2 separate regions of the Homo sapiens genome follow, and region 2 is linked to region 1. Evidence: fine-mapped expression QTL. Tissue or cell type: transverse colon. Region 1 holds a variant in brackets; the other region holds the start of a gene. All regions are shown on one strand. Distances are from middle to middle.

Evidence for each region. PIP is the estimated chance that this variant, and not a neighbour inherited with it, causes the effect. A credible set is the group of variants that fine-mapping cannot tell apart.
Region 2: it holds the start of NLRP9, and the variant in region 1 is the best candidate, but not a certain one, in a credible set for the expression of NLRP9 in transverse colon (GTEx, PIP 0.57).

What each region holds. Positions count from the first base shown.
Region 1 is chr19:55,656,037-55,664,144 of GRCh38, forward strand. It overlaps U2AF2 (U2 small nuclear RNA auxiliary factor 2), which reads left to right. Exons shown (of 12, transcript NM_007279.3): 2 at 3,174-3,309; 3 at 4,141-4,185; 4 at 4,480-4,583; 5 at 5,002-5,153; 6 at 6,466-6,582; 7 at 7,570-7,708. Among named protein-coding and RNA genes, the nearest start is that of U2AF2, 5.1 kb to the left of the region's middle. The variant ACT/A (reference allele first, on the strand shown) is at 3,649.
Region 2 is chr19:55,734,716-55,742,823 of GRCh38, forward strand. NLRP9 (NLR family pyrin domain containing 9) reads right to left here and starts at 3,687. Exons shown (of 9, transcript NM_176820.4): 1 at 3,380-3,687. The coding sequence starts at 3,659. It also overlaps the pseudogene RN7SKP109.

The DNA.
Region 1 (8,108 bases):
TCACTTACGGGGAAGGTGGGAGGCAGGTTCCCTTCAGGGTATCGAAAATTGTGATGGGTTAGAACAAAAAGCCTGGGGCCCTGATCTTAGGGATTCCAATAATATTAGAAGTGGGAGAGTTGTTAAGACGCTTTAAAAATCCTCCGTGTTTCAGTTTGTGAAGAAATACAGGACCAGGGAAGATTGGAGACTTGTTTCTTTTCAGGCTTCAGCTGCCCATGTTCCTAGCTCGTTCGGAGGACGAAATGAGGGCTGAGGAATTTTCCTTTGAACCCGGGCTAGAGTTGGGTAGGGGCTGTATTAGGAAACAGTGTCCTGGGGAAGCAATAACGTTTACTGAGGGTCTGACTCTGTCTTAGTTGATGGACTGCTCAAGAGCATAGGCTTTGGAGTTGAGCACATCAGGAAGTTTAGATACCTGCTTTGTCGTTTAGTAACTGCTTTTAATACGTTTATATATTTTTTTCCATTTGTAGACTGATTATTATTTTCTTGTTACCGGATTTTGAGAAGATTAAAAAGGATGATAGTAACGATAGATGTAGTTAAACTCTGAGCGCTTACCGTGTGCCAGGCTCTTCGCTAAACTCTTAGCATGTTTTACTAAGTGGATCCTTTTAACAGCCTTGTGAGGCCAAAATGATTTCCACCTCTACTGGGGAGGAAACTGAGGGCTCAGAAAAGTTAAAAACTTTCTCAGGGCTCAGCTAGTCAGAGGCAGAGCTGAGATTAAATGGGGTAACATGTAAAGTGTGTGGCATGTGGCTTTGCGTACACTGGGTGTGCAGTAAGCGATATTTGCAATTGTAAAATTCCATGCTTAGAGAGGAGGGTCTTCCGCTCACAGAGATTGTGTCAGAGTTGGGAAAGGGCAGGAAAAGGTGCTTTCCAAATGTCATTCTGCCACACAACACCTGGATGGAGTAGATACGACCCTCGTTTAAAGAGAAAACCAAGTCTTAAAGGCTAAGTTGCTTTTGCATGGTTTTTGTTGTTCATAAGCAGAAAAGCAGGTACTGATTCTGAGCTCTGGCTGCAAGGCCAAGTTCCACTCTGCTGGACCAAGTGGAGCTGATTGGGCGGTTCTTTGAGGCTCTCAGATGGTGCTTCACCGGTTCTCCCGGGGTTTCCCTTTTGGTGCTGGTAGGGCAGTCCCTGAGACCTGGCACGGCTCCTGGGTTGGCGGAGCTGCTCCCATAAGATGACCACAATACAGTGTTTTGAGCAAACGAAGCTCTCATTGTTTTTACCTGTCCAGCATCAGTGTGTGGGAGAGGGTTCTTGCCATAGGGGAAGCTCTGCCCGCGTGTCACTGCCTGTAGTCTTTGTCTCTGCGGAGGACGGGCCAGCTTCTGTACGTGTCGCCTTCTGCTTCAGTCCTTTCCTCTGCTACCTGTATCTACAGGGAATTTCCTTGTCTATATCCCAGGCACCCAGCGGGCATCATTGCTTTCTCTGCGTGGGTTCCTGTCTGCCTGCTTGCCTGTTTCAGAGCCTTAGCAGCAGAAAGGGCTCTTGGGGCTCACAGCCTGTCCATCTTATAAGCGAGGAGCTGTGCCCAGTGCCGTGCCTGTGTGCCCGCTGCTCTACACTGCTGGCCTGTCCTGCCGATTGTTCCTCCCAATTTCAGTTTTTGATTTTGGGGTTTTTGGCCTTCAAGGGGACAATTATATTGTCATTAATGGTTCTAGCCAGACCTGAGTGTTCTGCCTGATCCACATTCGAGAGTATGGCCTCGTGCTTAACTCACTGATGTCAGAGTGTTTAAATTCTGGTGTCACCATTTCCTAGCTGTTTGACCTTGGTAATTGTGATCTCTCTATACCTTAGTTTCCTTACCCATTATGTCAGCCCCCAGCAGTGTTTTTCCGAAGCAGTAGTGAGGATTAAGAACAAACAAAACAATTTAGTACAGATTCCGGTTGTAGGAAGCATCTCAATATTTGTTGCTGTTTTTTTCCCTGCTGGGTGCATATTTTTCTGAGTGTTGGTGGTTTTGGAATTGTGATGCTTTTCCAGACATTCACATTGCATCGCAAAAACGTGAGACAAAACACTGTGGGTGAGGCTGAAGTTTAACATCCTCCCTCAGTGCCCTTTCCTCCTCTTGTCCCCAGGGATGATCACTCCAGGAGATGCGTGTTAACATATATAAGCACCTTAACGTGTGCATCTGTTTTGTGTGTGTGCTTCATGGCTAGCTGAGAAATCTGGGTGTCTTTGAATTAAGGAAATGGTGTGGCGGTGCTCATGAACCCCCCCGCCCCCCCATGCTCATGGTTTATCCTCCATCTTGAAGGGCCGGTCTCTCTTCAGGGGTTGAAGGGTCTGGTGAGAGCAGAGGTTTCTGTGGTTTTGCCAGTGAGGCTCCGTTCCTAGTGGCTACCTCAGGCAAATAGAGGGTTGAGGGAGCCTGCTGGAGGCTGGCAGAGATACCCGCCCCTACTCACGCCTTTACAGTCTCTTCAGTACTTGGCTTTGAAGGGAGTGAGGCTGAGAGATTCAAGTGGTTTGGGATTCAAGTCTGGATGGGGCAAGCTCCTCCCCTGACCTGCTGAAGGAGAGGAGGGCCTCTTTCCCCTTCAGTCTGCAGATTCTCCGAGGCCCTTCTCTTCCCCTGGGAAGGGTGCTTGCTTCTGCATTATTCACCGGCTTGGGAAGGGATGGGTTGAGTTTCCCTGCTTCCTGGGGATATCAGATCCTGCCTGGCACCTGACCCCTAGTCCTGATGGTGGGGCTGTGGGTGCCAGCTAGTTGCAGAGGTCTTTCCTGAGGGGTCGCTGGGTCCCTTCAGGAAAACATCATTGGGTCTCTTGATTCCCCAGCCTCTAGCCCTGCCCCTCTCAGGGACGACCCTGGGGTCAGGCCCCTCAGCCCTCGAGGGGGACCAGGAGCCAGCCTCCTCTGTCTTCTCTGGCTCCCCAGCTCCTCCTGAGCATCCTCAGGTATCTTACACCCCGGGGGCATTTCCAGGCCCCGTCCCCCTGGTCCCCTCATGGTCCCTGGACTCGCTTGTGGACCCAGGAGGCCTGTTAATTCCCTTCCTCCATTGAATCCCTTCCCTTTGGGGGTGGCCTCCCTGGGGCTTGGGACATAGCCACCAGCGCGCAGGGTGGGCTGGGCCCGCATCCTTACTCCGCTTATCCCGTGCCCCTCCTCTCACCCTTGCCCAGAGCGGGACAAGGAGAACCGGCATCGGAAGCGCAGCCACAGCCGCTCTCGGAGCCGGGACCGCAAACGCCGGAGCCGGAGCCGCGACCGGCGCAACCGGGACCAGCGGAGCGCCTCCCGGGACAGGCGACGACGCAGGTACTAGGGCTCAGGGATCCCCTGGGCCAGCCTGGGAGTCGGGGGGTCGGTGTTGGCCGGCCTGTGGGTGGCCTGTGTGTGTCTGTGTCTGGGTCCGGGCCCTGTGTGGCTCGTTCGTTCTTTGTGTGGATCTGGGGGAGGGATCTACTGCTTGGTCTGTCTTGGATTCCGATTTTTTCCCCCGTTTCTGGGGTTTCTTTCATTTTCTGTCTTGGTGGTTGCTGGTGGGTTGCTGGGGGCAATAGGCTCTTTATCTGGAGCCTGGGAATTGATTCTGTGTTTTCCTTCACAAGGGGTTGTTCTCTGTCTCTGACTCTGAGGGCCTGTTCCTTCTTTTCG[ACT/A]CTCTGTGGCTCTCTGTGGGACTCTCTTCGAGGGGGTTGGTCTCTGCCTCCAGTTTCTTTCTTCCCTGCCTCCCAGGAGAAGGGAGCTCTTGGGACCGAGGCAGTATCCACAGCCTGGGCTGACTTTTTGGCCCAGGGGTGTCGGTTTCCACCGCCTCTTCCCTTCTAGGCTCCCCTTTCTGTTCTCTGCCTCCTTAGGTGAGGAAGGGCAGGATAGGCGGAAGTCCTCCTGCCTCCTCCCGGCTCAGTTTCTCCAGCTAGAGACTGGTCCTTCCTGGCCCCTGGCCCCTTTCTCCTTTCCTCACTTCCTCTTTCCTGGGGGTGGGAGTGTTTGGGGGGAAATGGCAGGGCCGAGGGTGGCCTGCTTGCTGCTTGTTGACCTCGGCCCTGCTCCCACCCTGGGGCTCAGTGCCCTTGGGGGGGTGTGGCATGTGGGGAAGACGAGGGTCCCCAGTCACCCCTCCCCATACCTTTCCCTCCCACCCCCCAGCAAACCTTTGACCAGAGGCGCTAAAGAGGAGCACGGTGGACTGATGTGAGCTTCTCTTCCTGCCCCTTCCTCCCTGATGTCCACTCCCTTCACCTTCCTCACGCCCGTGCACCCTGTCCCGCCCATTTCCAGCCCTGGCCCAAGCACTGGGAAGAGTCCACTTACCTTGAAACCAGCACCCCTTTCCCAGGCCCTGCCCCAGACCCTCTCCTTCCCTGGAGAGAGTGGAGCTTACATGGTTGCGGGGAGGGTGAAAGGGTGCCTGGGAGGGGGCTCGCAGGCCCACTGTTGGTCAGACTGAGGTTGCCCTGCCCCGCTCTCCCCTCCCACCTCCCCCAGTCGTTCCCCCCGCCACGAGAAGAAGAAGAAGGTCCGTAAATACTGGGACGTGCCACCCCCAGGCTTTGAGCACATCACCCCAATGCAGTACAAGGCCATGCAAGGTAGGCCCCTGGCCAGGCTGCTCCCAGAGCGGGAGGGTACAGGGGTTGGGATTCTCCGTCAGTCATTCCCCTGCGTGTGTGCTTGGAGGGGGTCAAAGACACAGGTAGAGGGTTGCACACCCCTGGGGGTTCTGGTCTCTGCGCTTTTGAAGCCTCCCTAGAGGAGGAAATGACCAGAGACACCCGTGGTTGACAGGGGAATGAGGCCTCCATCTGGACGCCATTAGGAAGTGAGGCTTCTGAGGAGCAGCAGTTACTGGGTGGGGGCCCCGAGGGTGGAAAGAGGGTTCTGGAAGGTGCTAAGACCGAGAGCCTGTAGGAGCTTTCTGCTGAGGAGGGGAACTCCCAGTGTGTGGTGAGGGGTGGTCACTGAGCATTCCCCTGATGGGGTTTTATCCGGCTTTTATTCCCTTTGAAGCTGCGGGTCAGATTCCAGCCACTGCTCTTCTCCCCACCATGACCCCTGACGGTCTGGCTGTGACCCCAACGCCGGTGCCCGTGGTCGGGAGCCAGATGACCAGACAAGCCCGGCGCCTCTACGTGGGCAACATCCCCTTTGGCATCACTGAGGTACTGCCCTCCCCTGCCCCCTACCCTCTCCCTTGTCCCTCTACCCCGTTCCTCCCCTTCCCTCCATTCCCTTTCCCCAACCTGCACGGGTCAGACTCTGCTCCTGCAAGACCCCCCGGCCCCCTCCCAGACGGACCGATGGAGTTGAGCCAGCCAGGGGCCGGGCTGGGGGTGGCCCTCCCTCCCTCCTCTTCCCCTCTCCCGTCTCCCCTCCCCCCAACCTCCTCCAGCAACCCAGGGATCAAGCACACACATAATGTACCCACGTGTTGTACCTACGTGTCGGAGAGAGACAGAGAGGGAGACTTGGACACACACACACACACACACACACACACACACACACACACACAGACGCACGCTGCCCCTCAGTTTTTTTCTGACACGCCTCTCGTTCTCTGCCGCCTGTCCCCTATCCTCTCCCCCACGTCCCTCCCATGGTCGCTGTTCTTTTATTTTTGATCGCCCCTGACCTCCCCCTTCCCCACCACTCCTTTTCCCTCTCCCCTCTCCCCAACCCCTTCCTGTGGCACCCCCTGAGAATCCCGAGATCAAAGAGTTGTTTCCATTTCTCTTTAAAGTGAAATATTGTGGGGCTGAGATCCCTCGTAGCAACAAAAAGTTTGCTACCATCGTCGAAGGCAAGTAAGGTCCATTCTGACTTTCTCAACCTGCACTTTGCTACATTTGATAAACCAGCCCCCGGACTCCAGGGCCAGATTCCTCCACATCACTCTTTTCTCCTCCCCTCCCGTCCCTGCCCCTCCTCCCTACACTCCTCCTCTCCTGCCCCTGCACTCTTGACTTCCTCCTCCTCGCTCGTCTCTGTCCTGCTCTCCCTTTCTGTCCTTTGCTCGTCTCTGCCCCTGCCTGCCACTTCCTTTCTACTTTCCTGCCACTTTTCTGTCTGTCTCCACTGGGTGGCCCTTCCTGTGTGCTCTGTCTCTTCATCTCTTGTGTTTCGTGTTTTTCTTCATTTTGTGTTGTCATCATGCCCTCTGCCTTTTCTTGAACAATCTTCTCCTTTCCCCTGATTTTTTGGGGCCCCTGTGGCTGTCCCCCAACGCCTGTCCATCGCCTGCCCTTGGCCGTCTCTTGCTACTGCTTCCTCCCCATTTTCTCTCTTGCTTCTGTTCTTACTATTGACTTCTACACCCCCACCCATATTCCACTGTTCCTTCCCCCCCTCCTCCCTCCCCTCATCCCTCTCCCCTTACCCCCAAACCCCTCTGTGTCTCCCTCTCTCACCCTTCCCCTCCTCTCTCCACCTCCCTTCCCCCGCCCCCCCCCTTGTCTCCTATTCCCTCTGCAGGAGGCCATGATGGATTTCTTCAACGCCCAGATGCGCCTGGGGGGGCTGACCCAGGCCCCTGGCAACCCAGTGTTGGCTGTGCAGATTAACCAGGACAAGAATTTTGCCTTTTTGGAGGTGAGCTGGGGGAGTGAGTGAGGTCCAGGAAACGTGTGTGATGTGAGGGCCCAGCCCTTAGGCTGATGTTGTGTGGAGCTGCCTTGTGCTGTTTCCACCAGGCCCTCTGCAGCCTCTTCTCCACCCGGTCGCTGAAGTGAGCCCTGTTATAGCATTACAGATCTGATCCTACTTTCTGCCTTCCATTTGCTTTCTGTGTGACCTGAGAGGCCTGTTTGGCCTCTGTAGACCTCTTTGGCCTTTTCCAGACCATTCCGGCCCAGTCCTCTCTGCACTCTGGCCACACTGACCTTCCCAGAACCTACCATGCTCCTGCCTGCTTGGCTAGAGTTCTTTACACCAGCTAACTGATGTTCCTAACTAGTCTTCTGTTACCCCAGCTAACTGATGTTCCTAACTAGTCTTCTGTGTCTGTGTTTCTCAACTGTCGGGAAAAGGCCTTGGTTTTTGATTTTCGACTCTTGGTGGACTGATAACTCTCATGAAGTATTGTGAAGGTGTGGGCAGTGTTAGCTTACTGCAGAGATTTCTGAGCACTCCCTCTCACTGTCTGAGCACTCCCTCTCACTCTGTCCCTCTCACTCTGTCTTTGCCTCACTGCAGTCCACTTGCAGTTGCATTGCTCCGGAGATGGGCTGAAATGTCCCCCTCACCAGAAAGACTCCAGTACTGTCATCTCCCCGTTCAACTAACCTTTCCCGTAACATCCCTTTTCAGCACTTTGTCCCTCTTCCGTGTCATCACAGCCTGCAATTGTGTGTTTGCCTCTGTGTTTGTGTTGGGTGCCTGGTGTTTTTAATGGTCGAGTGTGAGCTCCTGGCAGCAGGGACATGCGTGTCTGTTGTACTCCCAGTGCCCAGCCTGGGGCCTGGCATGTTGTATTTGTTCACATGAGTGAAAGGAAAGAGGAAATCCCAATCCTGGAACACTAGGGGCTGTACTAGTCCCTGACCCCCATCCCTCACCACTCCTTTCTCTTTCATTCAGTTCCGCTCAGTGGACGAGACTACCCAGGCTATGGCCTTTGATGGCATCATCTTCCAGGGCCAGTCACTAAAGATCCGCAGGCCTCACGACTACCAGCCGCTTCCTGGCATGTCAGAGAACCCCTCCGTCTATGTGCCTGGTGAGTGGGGGATCCATTAAGGGCCCCTTTCTCCCCCAGTCCTGTTCCCATGGCCTGTCCATCCCTTCAGCCCAGCTGGAGTGGCTTAGGAAGTTGTGTAAGTACTGTGGAAGATAGGTGCCTTTTCCCTGCTTCCCCTAAGTCTCTGTGAGTGGGGTGCTCTCCTGCTGGTAGAGAAGGTGCCTAGGGCCGGGAGAATGAGCTGTCACCTGCTGAGGACACACAGCTTGTACGTGGCAGAGCCAGGATCAGACCAAAGGTGCTGGGGAAGCGAGGGGCTTGTGGCCTGGACCTCGTGCCTGCGTTGCGGCTGTGGGACCTTGGAGGGCTCAGTCTGTGCCCGTCGGGGCTGCTGTGTGTCGACGGTTGGCAGCAAAGCTGCTGCTGTGGGGTCTGGCAC
Region 2 (8,108 bases), 79 kb after region 1:
CCTCCGCCTCCTGGGTTCAAGCGATTCTTCTGCCTCAGCCTCCCAAGTAGCTGGGATTACAGGCACCTGCCACCACGCCCAGCTAATTTTTGTATTTTTCGTAGATACAGGGTCTCACCATGTTGGTCAGGCTGGTCTTGAACTCTTGACCTCAGGTGATCTGCCCTCCTCGGCCTCCCAAAGTGCTGGGATTACAGGCGTAAGCCACCATGCCCAGCCACAAAATATATATTTTATGCAAAGTTTATCTAATGAGTGATGAGAAATGGGGAAGGGAGAAGAATTAAAATCCTGTTCATAATCTGAGTTTTCAAATTTCAGAAAAATTTTGAGTCTTGGGAAGGGACTGGACGGAAGGAGATTGCAAAGGGGCCCTACAGTCGCTCACAGGAAGGCAGGGACGGTTCCACCGATGGTCTGTGCTCTCCTTGCACACTCGTCTGTGGACATCACAGGAGGGAACAGCATCCACTTTATTCTCCGCTATATCCCTTTAACACCGTCGCACAGGAGTTATTCAAGTCTCTGAGCAGTGACTGACTTTGTATAAAATTAATATTGTAAAACTGTCTTGAATTTAAAACATACATGCTAGGCACGGTGGCTCACGCCGGTAATCCCAGCGCTTTGGGAGTGCTGAGGCAGGAGGAGCACTTGAGGCCAGGAGTTCAAGACGAGCTTGGCCAACATAGTGAGACTCCATCTCTATTAAAAAATTAAATTAAAAAATATGCAGATAAAGAGAAAGGAAATAAGGCCATTCCAAAATGTCATCAATGTATGTAATCATGGCTCATAGCTTGATCTGTGTCTGTATTACTCTACATTTTTCTTCTGCCCGATTTTTCTCTCTACAGTAGAATTATACTGTATATACTATTTTCAAACATGGTTTTTGACTGAACAATATATTATGGACATCTTTCTAAATTCATGCACATTTTTCATCACAAAACACTATGCTATTTATTAAAAAATTTTTTTTTTTAGACAGAGTCTCATCACTCTGTGGCCCAGGCTAAAGTGCAGTGGTGTGATTGTGGCTCACTGCAACTTCCACCTCCCGGGTTCTAGTGATTCTCGTGCCTCAGCCTCCCGAGTAGCTGGGATTACAGGCGTGCACCACCACGCCTGGGTAATTTTTGTATTTTTAGTAGATAGAGTGTCTCACCATGTTGGCCAGGCTGGTCTCGAACTCCTGACCTTAGGTGATCCGCCCACCTCAGCCTCCCAAAGTGCTGGGATTACGGGTGTGAGCCACCACGCCTGGCAAAACCCTATGCTATTTAATTGAATGGATTTATCATTATATTATTCACTTTCTATATTTGCCCATAGTAAACATTTGCTGACCTCCAAGGTTTTTTTTTGAGACAAAATTCATAAGCAAGGTTATTTAAAACTGATGATTCACGCCTGTAATCCCAGCACTTTGGGAGGCTGAGGTGGGTGGATCATGAGGTCAGGAGATCGAGACCATCCTGGCTAACACGGTGAGACCCCATCTCTACTAAAAATACAAAAAATTATCTGGGCGTGGTGGCAGGCGCCTGTAGTCCCAGCTACCTGGGAGGCTGAGGCAGGAGAATGGTGGGAACCCGGGAGGCAGAGCTTGCAGTGAGCTGAGATCGCGCCACTGCACTCCAGCCTGGGCGACAGAGCGAGACTCCGTCTCAAAAAAGAAAAAAGTCATGTCATGTCTTAGAGATTTTTATAACATTTAGGACCTCAGTGTCCCAAGTGAGAAACTCTCAGTTCAGACACTGACTCGGTCATTTTTTCATCTGCCAACATAGAACATTAATCAGCAGAAAAGTCAAAGACACGAACCACACAGATAAAGAAAACTGGCACACACCTGTAATCACAGCACTTTGGGAAGCCCAGGCAGGAGGATCATCTGAGGTCAGGAGTTTGAGACCAGCCTGACCAACATGGTGATACCCCGTCTCTACTAAAAATACAAAAATTAGCTGGGCGTGGTGGTGCATGCCTGTAATCCCAGCTACTCGGGAAGCTGAGGAAGGAGAATCGCTTGAACCTGGGAGGCAGAAGTTGCAGTGAACCGAGATCATGTCACTGCCCTCCAACCTGGGCAACAGAGCAAGACTCCGTCTCAAAAAAATAAAACAAAAACAAAAAAAAAAACAAAAAACTAACACAGCAAGCAACTCCAAACCAAATAAAATACCCTCAAGCATGTGGGGATACGAAATAAGGTCTCAAATTAGAATTACCAACACAAAGAAGAAACATGAACAAAACAGAAGTAAACGTAACAGAAGTTGATGGAACTCAAAAGTAAAGGGAGAAGATAACAATCATCAGAAACAAATGCTAATTACTAGATACCTAATAGGGAATATATTTAGTTTTTCCTAAGTATCCCCCGAGAGGAGGGTGTAGACCCCATCAATGAGTCCAGCAGAACTGGTTCGGAGTCAGATCTGTCACTTTTGGAAAAGTCATGTAACACATGGGAACACTGTTTTGTCCAGTTTTCTCACTTGTAAACCTTTCCTGGGTTGTGATAAGAATGAAAAGACATTATGCAGAAAGAATGCTTCCAGGACGTGAGGACAACCTGGCTGTGATGTCTGTCACCCCATTGGTCGCCCCAGGGCTAATTCGGCTGATGTGGCCAGCTGGGTGGGTGTCCACTTCCTCCCTCACTGCTCCATATGCGTCCGTCCTGAAAGTCTCCCCTGGGTCAAAGACGATGACAACCTTTGCCCATAGAGGAAGGTCCTTCCATCGCGGGCAGAAGAGAAGCTGTGCTCCCCTACTAGAACCTCCAAACAAGCTCGCAAGAATGCTTCCTGTAGTACCCGGGACATACGCTGTCTGATTGTCTTAAGATTCTACCTACTCCTTGGTACATGTCTGGTCAAAAAGGACAGGCAGTTAGGCATGGTGGCTCACTCCTGTAATCACAGCACTTTGGGATGCCTAGGCAGGTGGATCACTTGAGCCTGGGAGTTCAAGACCAGCCTGAGCAACATGGCAAGACCCTTTCTCTAAAAAAAAAAAAAAAAAAAAAAAAAAGATAGGCAACTACCATACTAGAATTCCATCTCAGTAGACCTGGCAATGCAGACACTAACTGGCCACTCATCTCCTATAACAACGACTCCACTTGGGGTGGAAAAATGGGAAGACACTCCATAGGTGAACAGTTGGTATCAGGACGCCATCTGTCCCCAGTTCATCGCTGGCCCACATATGAACAGCCCTGGCCTGCAACTCTTCCTACCTTCAACTCTCACCTTGACCCACACACATTCTCATCTGATGGAGGGGGTGGCCACTCATTTAACAATGCTATCACCTTGTTCCCAGGCTTCCCCCATGGGTCCTCGCCCCATCATCCAGCACTTACTTCTCATCTCTTCCTGAGCCTTTGTCCAGAGATCTTTCCTATTGATCTGTAGAAACAGGTTCAGTGTTACCTCCCATGCCTGCTTTCCTGGGTAATGTTTGTCCAGCAGCTTTGCTACATCTTCTTTGGAGGCCTTCTTCAGCTCAGCCCAGGGGATTGGCTTGAGTTCAAATTTCTCCAAAGGTTGTTTGAGGAGCTCCTTAAATTTCCAAAACTCTTCCTTTCTGAGCTCCTTCAGATACCACAACAAGCCAAAATCCGAAAAAAAAGATTCTGCCATATCGCCCCAGGATTGTGAACTGAGGTGTCTCCAGAGGGAAAAGAAAGATCCTCAAAAATAAAGAATAAATGATACCTGGAGAAGAATGACATGATTACAGAGTTAAGCTTCAGCAGCTGAAAGCAGCTCAAAATTATTGATATCATCATGCGTAGCTTGCACCAAACATCATCTAGGGAAGAAGCTTCATCTTTTTCCAAACAAATGCATGTGAATGGTAGAGTTGACTGCCACTTATGTGTCTTGTTTTTGTCTGACATAAATGATGCTTCCAGGAACAAGTGTTTTTGTGTAGTTTGGTGTATATAAGCACACATTTCTCTAGATTTATAAATTATAGGTCAAACAGCAAACACAGGTCACCATGTTTGCTACATAACACTCAACGGTTTTCCCTTGTGTATATAATTACTGACATTCCTACCAGCATTCTATGAGTTTGTTTGCTCTGTAGACCTTCCCATCCTTAGTATAGTCTAATCCAATTTTGATAATGAAAAAATGAACGGATATTAAAATTACAGATGATCACATTCAGGAAGATGAAAATAAAGGAAGAGGACATAAAAGCAAATTTAAATTTTTTTTTATCGTTTAGTGGTATATGCCTTCTTTTTTTTTTTTTTTTTTGAGACAGAGTCTCGCTCTGATGCCCAGGCTGGAGTGCAGTAGCGCAATCTCGGCTCACTGCAAGCTCTGCCTCCCGGGTTCACGTCATTCTCCTGCCTCAGCCTCCTGAGTAGCTGGGACTACAGGTGCCTGCCACCACACCCGGCTAATTTTTTTGTATTTTTAGTAGAGATGGGGTTTTACTGTGTTCGCCAGGATGGTCTCGATCTCCTGACCTCGTGATCCACCCGCCTCGGCCTCCCAAAGTGCTGGGATTACAGGCATGAGCCACCGTGCCCGGCCGGTATATGCCTTCTTATTACAGTATATAAGGAAAAAGTTAGATTTACTATAGGTTAGCATCTGCAGACAACTCAGACAGAAACAGAGCAGTGAACGTTCCCAGTATTATAAACCCTTCAGATAATCATTGCAATTCAACAAAAGACAGGAAATGAAGTAGAAATATATGGTAGACAAAATAAGACAGGTGGCAAAAATAATACCAAATATATATAGATATGTATTTTGAGATAGAGTTTCACTCTTGTTGCCCAGACTAGAATGCAATGGTATGACCTCAGCTCACTGCAACCTCTGCCTCCCAGGTTCAAATGATTCTCCTGCCTCGTCCTCCCAAGTAGCTGGGATTACAGGCACCTGCCACCATGCCCGGCTAATTTTTTTTTTTTGTATTTTTAGTAGAGATGGGGTTTCACCATGTTGGCCAGGCTGGTCTCGAACTCCTGACCTCAGGTGATCCACCTGCCTCAGCCTCCCAAAGTGCTGGGATTATAGGCTTGAGCCACTGCGCCCAGCCTAAATATAATCTTAACACATATGAATGAAATAAAATTGCTCACTAATATATAGACTCACATTGGATAAATACAAATCCTGCTATATGCTGTTTATAAGAGAATCCTAGAAAATACACAGAGAAGTAAAACAGAAGAAGAAAAAGCCTGGCAAATTCTTACCCAAAAAAGTATTAATAGTATAAAATATCAGCATTGAAAAACACTCAAGCTAGAAAGCACTAAATGGACTAAGAATTTTTGAACACCAAGATTCAGTTCCCCAAGATCTAGAACTCATGAGCATATGTGCACCTGGGAATACCACTTTACACATAAGGAGATGATGACAAACGCAATATCATTGTATCTGAGCTAATATACCTTTCAGATAATTACAAACCATTAGCAAAGGTTACATACCATCTATGGTCACATGCAAAAGAATAAACTTGGACCCTTAATACCATAAACAAAAATTAATGCAAAATGGATTGAAGAAGATCTAAATGGAAGGCCCAAAGTATAAAACTCCTAGGAGAAAATGTAGGGCAGAAGCTTCCAGACACAGATTTGGTCTGGATTATTTCTTGAATATGACATGACACAGACAAAAGAAAAAAATAGACAAACTGGACTTTATAAAAATTTTAAAATTTTGTGCATCAAAAGACAGTATCAGCCAGGTGCGGTGGTTCATGCCTGTAATCCCAGCACTTTGGGAGGCCGCAGCAGGTGGATCACTTGAGGCCAGGAGTTTGAGACCCATGGCCCACATGGTGAAACCCTGTCCCTACTAAAAATACAAAAATTAGCCAGGCGTGGTGGCAGACACCTGTAATCCCAGCTGCTCGGGAGGCGGAGGCTGCAGCAAGCTGAGATCACACCGCTACACTCCAGCCTGGGTGACAGAGCGAGACTCTGTCTCAAAAACAAAGACGATATCAAAAGAGTAAAAAGTCAACCAACAGAATGGGAGAAAATATTTGCAAAGCATGTATCTCACAGGGATTAAAATCCAGATTACAGGGAATGCCTAAAACTCAATAACAAAACAATCTTATAACAATGAGAAAAGGACTAGAATAGACATTTCTCCAAAGATATACAAATGGTCCATAGCCAATAAGCACATAAAAAGAGGCTCAACGTCACTAACCATTAGGGAAATACAGATCACAACTACAATGAGATAATCCTTCACATCCACTAAGATGGTAACTACAAAAAAAAAAAAATTCAAAACAAGTGTTGATGAGAAGGTAGAGAAACTGGAACCCTTGTATCCTAGTGACGTATAAATGTTAAATGGTTCAGCCACTGTGGAAAACTGTATCATATTTCCTGAAAAAATAAGAACAGAATTACTGTAGGATCCAGCAACCCCAAAGAATTGAAAGCAGACTCTCTCAGAGTTATCCGGACACTCATGTTAATAGGAGCATCAGTGACCCAAGTGTTCATCAACAGATGAATGGAAAAGTGAAATGCAGTCTATAAATACAGTATTATACAGCCTTAAAAAGGAAGGATGCTGGGCCCGGTGGCTCCTGCCTGTAACCCCAGCACTTTGGGAGGCTGAGGCGGTTGGATCACCTGAGGTCAGGAGTTCGAGACCAGCATGGTCAACATGGTGAAACCCCGTCTCTACTAAAAATACAAAAAAAAAATTAGCCAGGTGTGGTGGCAGGTGCCTGTAATCCCAGCTAACTCAGGAGGCTGAGGCAGGAGAATCGCTTGAACCTGGGAGTCGGAGGTTGTAGTGAGCAAAGATTGCGTCACTGAACTCCACTCTGGGCGACAGAGCGAGACTCTGTCTCAAAAAAAAAAAAAAAGGAAGGAGTTTTTTTTTTTTTTTTTTTTTTTTTGAGAAGGAGTCTCACTCTGTCCCCAGGCTGGAGTGCAGTGGTGCGATCTCGGCTCACTGCAAGCTCCGCCTCCCGGGTTCACACCATTCTTCTGCCTCAGCCTCCGGAGTAGCTGGGACTACAGGCGCCGGCCACCACGCCCGGCTAATTTTTTGAATTTTTAGTAGAGATGGGGTTTCACTGTGTTAGCCAGGATGGTCTCGATCTCCTGACCTCGTGATCCGCCCGCCTCAGCCTCCCAAAGTGCTGGGATTACAGGCGTGAGCCACAGCGCCCGGCCTAGGAAGGAGATTCTGACATATGCTGTGACATGAATGAACCTTGAGGACATTATGCCAAGTGATAGAAACCAGTCACAAAATGACAAATACTGTTCCATTAAACGTATATGAGGTACTTAAAGTGGTCAGAATCATAGAGACAAAGTAGAATGATGGTTGCCGAGGCTGAAGAAGAAAATGGAGAGCTATTGTTTAATGAGGACAGTTTCAGTTTTACAAGATAAACAGTTATGGAGATGGATGTGACGATGCTTGTACAACATTATAAGTGTATTTAGTACCACTGAATTATACACTTAAAATGGTTAAGACGGTAAGTTTTGTATTATGTGTATTTTACCACAATAAATTTCTTGAGACAAGGTCTTGCTCTGTGCCCAGGCTGAGTGCAGTGGCTCAATCACAGCTCCCTGCAGCCTCGACCGGCCCCCCACCCACACCCACCGGGGCTCAAGGACCTCCTCAGCCTCCCCACCTCCGCCTCCCAAGTAGCTGGGGCTAGAGGCACACACCACCAGGCCCAGCTAATTTTTTTAGATTTTTGTAGACATGATGTCTCACTATGTTGCCCAGGCTGGTCTCAAACTCCTGGTCTCAAGTAATCCTCCCACCTCGGCCTTCCAAAGTGCTGAGATTATAGGCAAGAGCCACCACACCCAGCAAAAAAAAAAAAAAAAAAAAATTAGTAATATGCTATTGAGGTAATGCACAAGTTTGTGACATATGTATGTGAAATATATGTATACATTTTTTAAAGGGAAAGTGGTTTGATTCCAAATCAAATATGTACATTTCATTCAAACGCATATGGGACATTTACTAAACATGACCTTATCTTGGGCATAAAGAAAAACTAAAAGAGAAACAGGTATTCTAAATCAGAGATCACTGGTC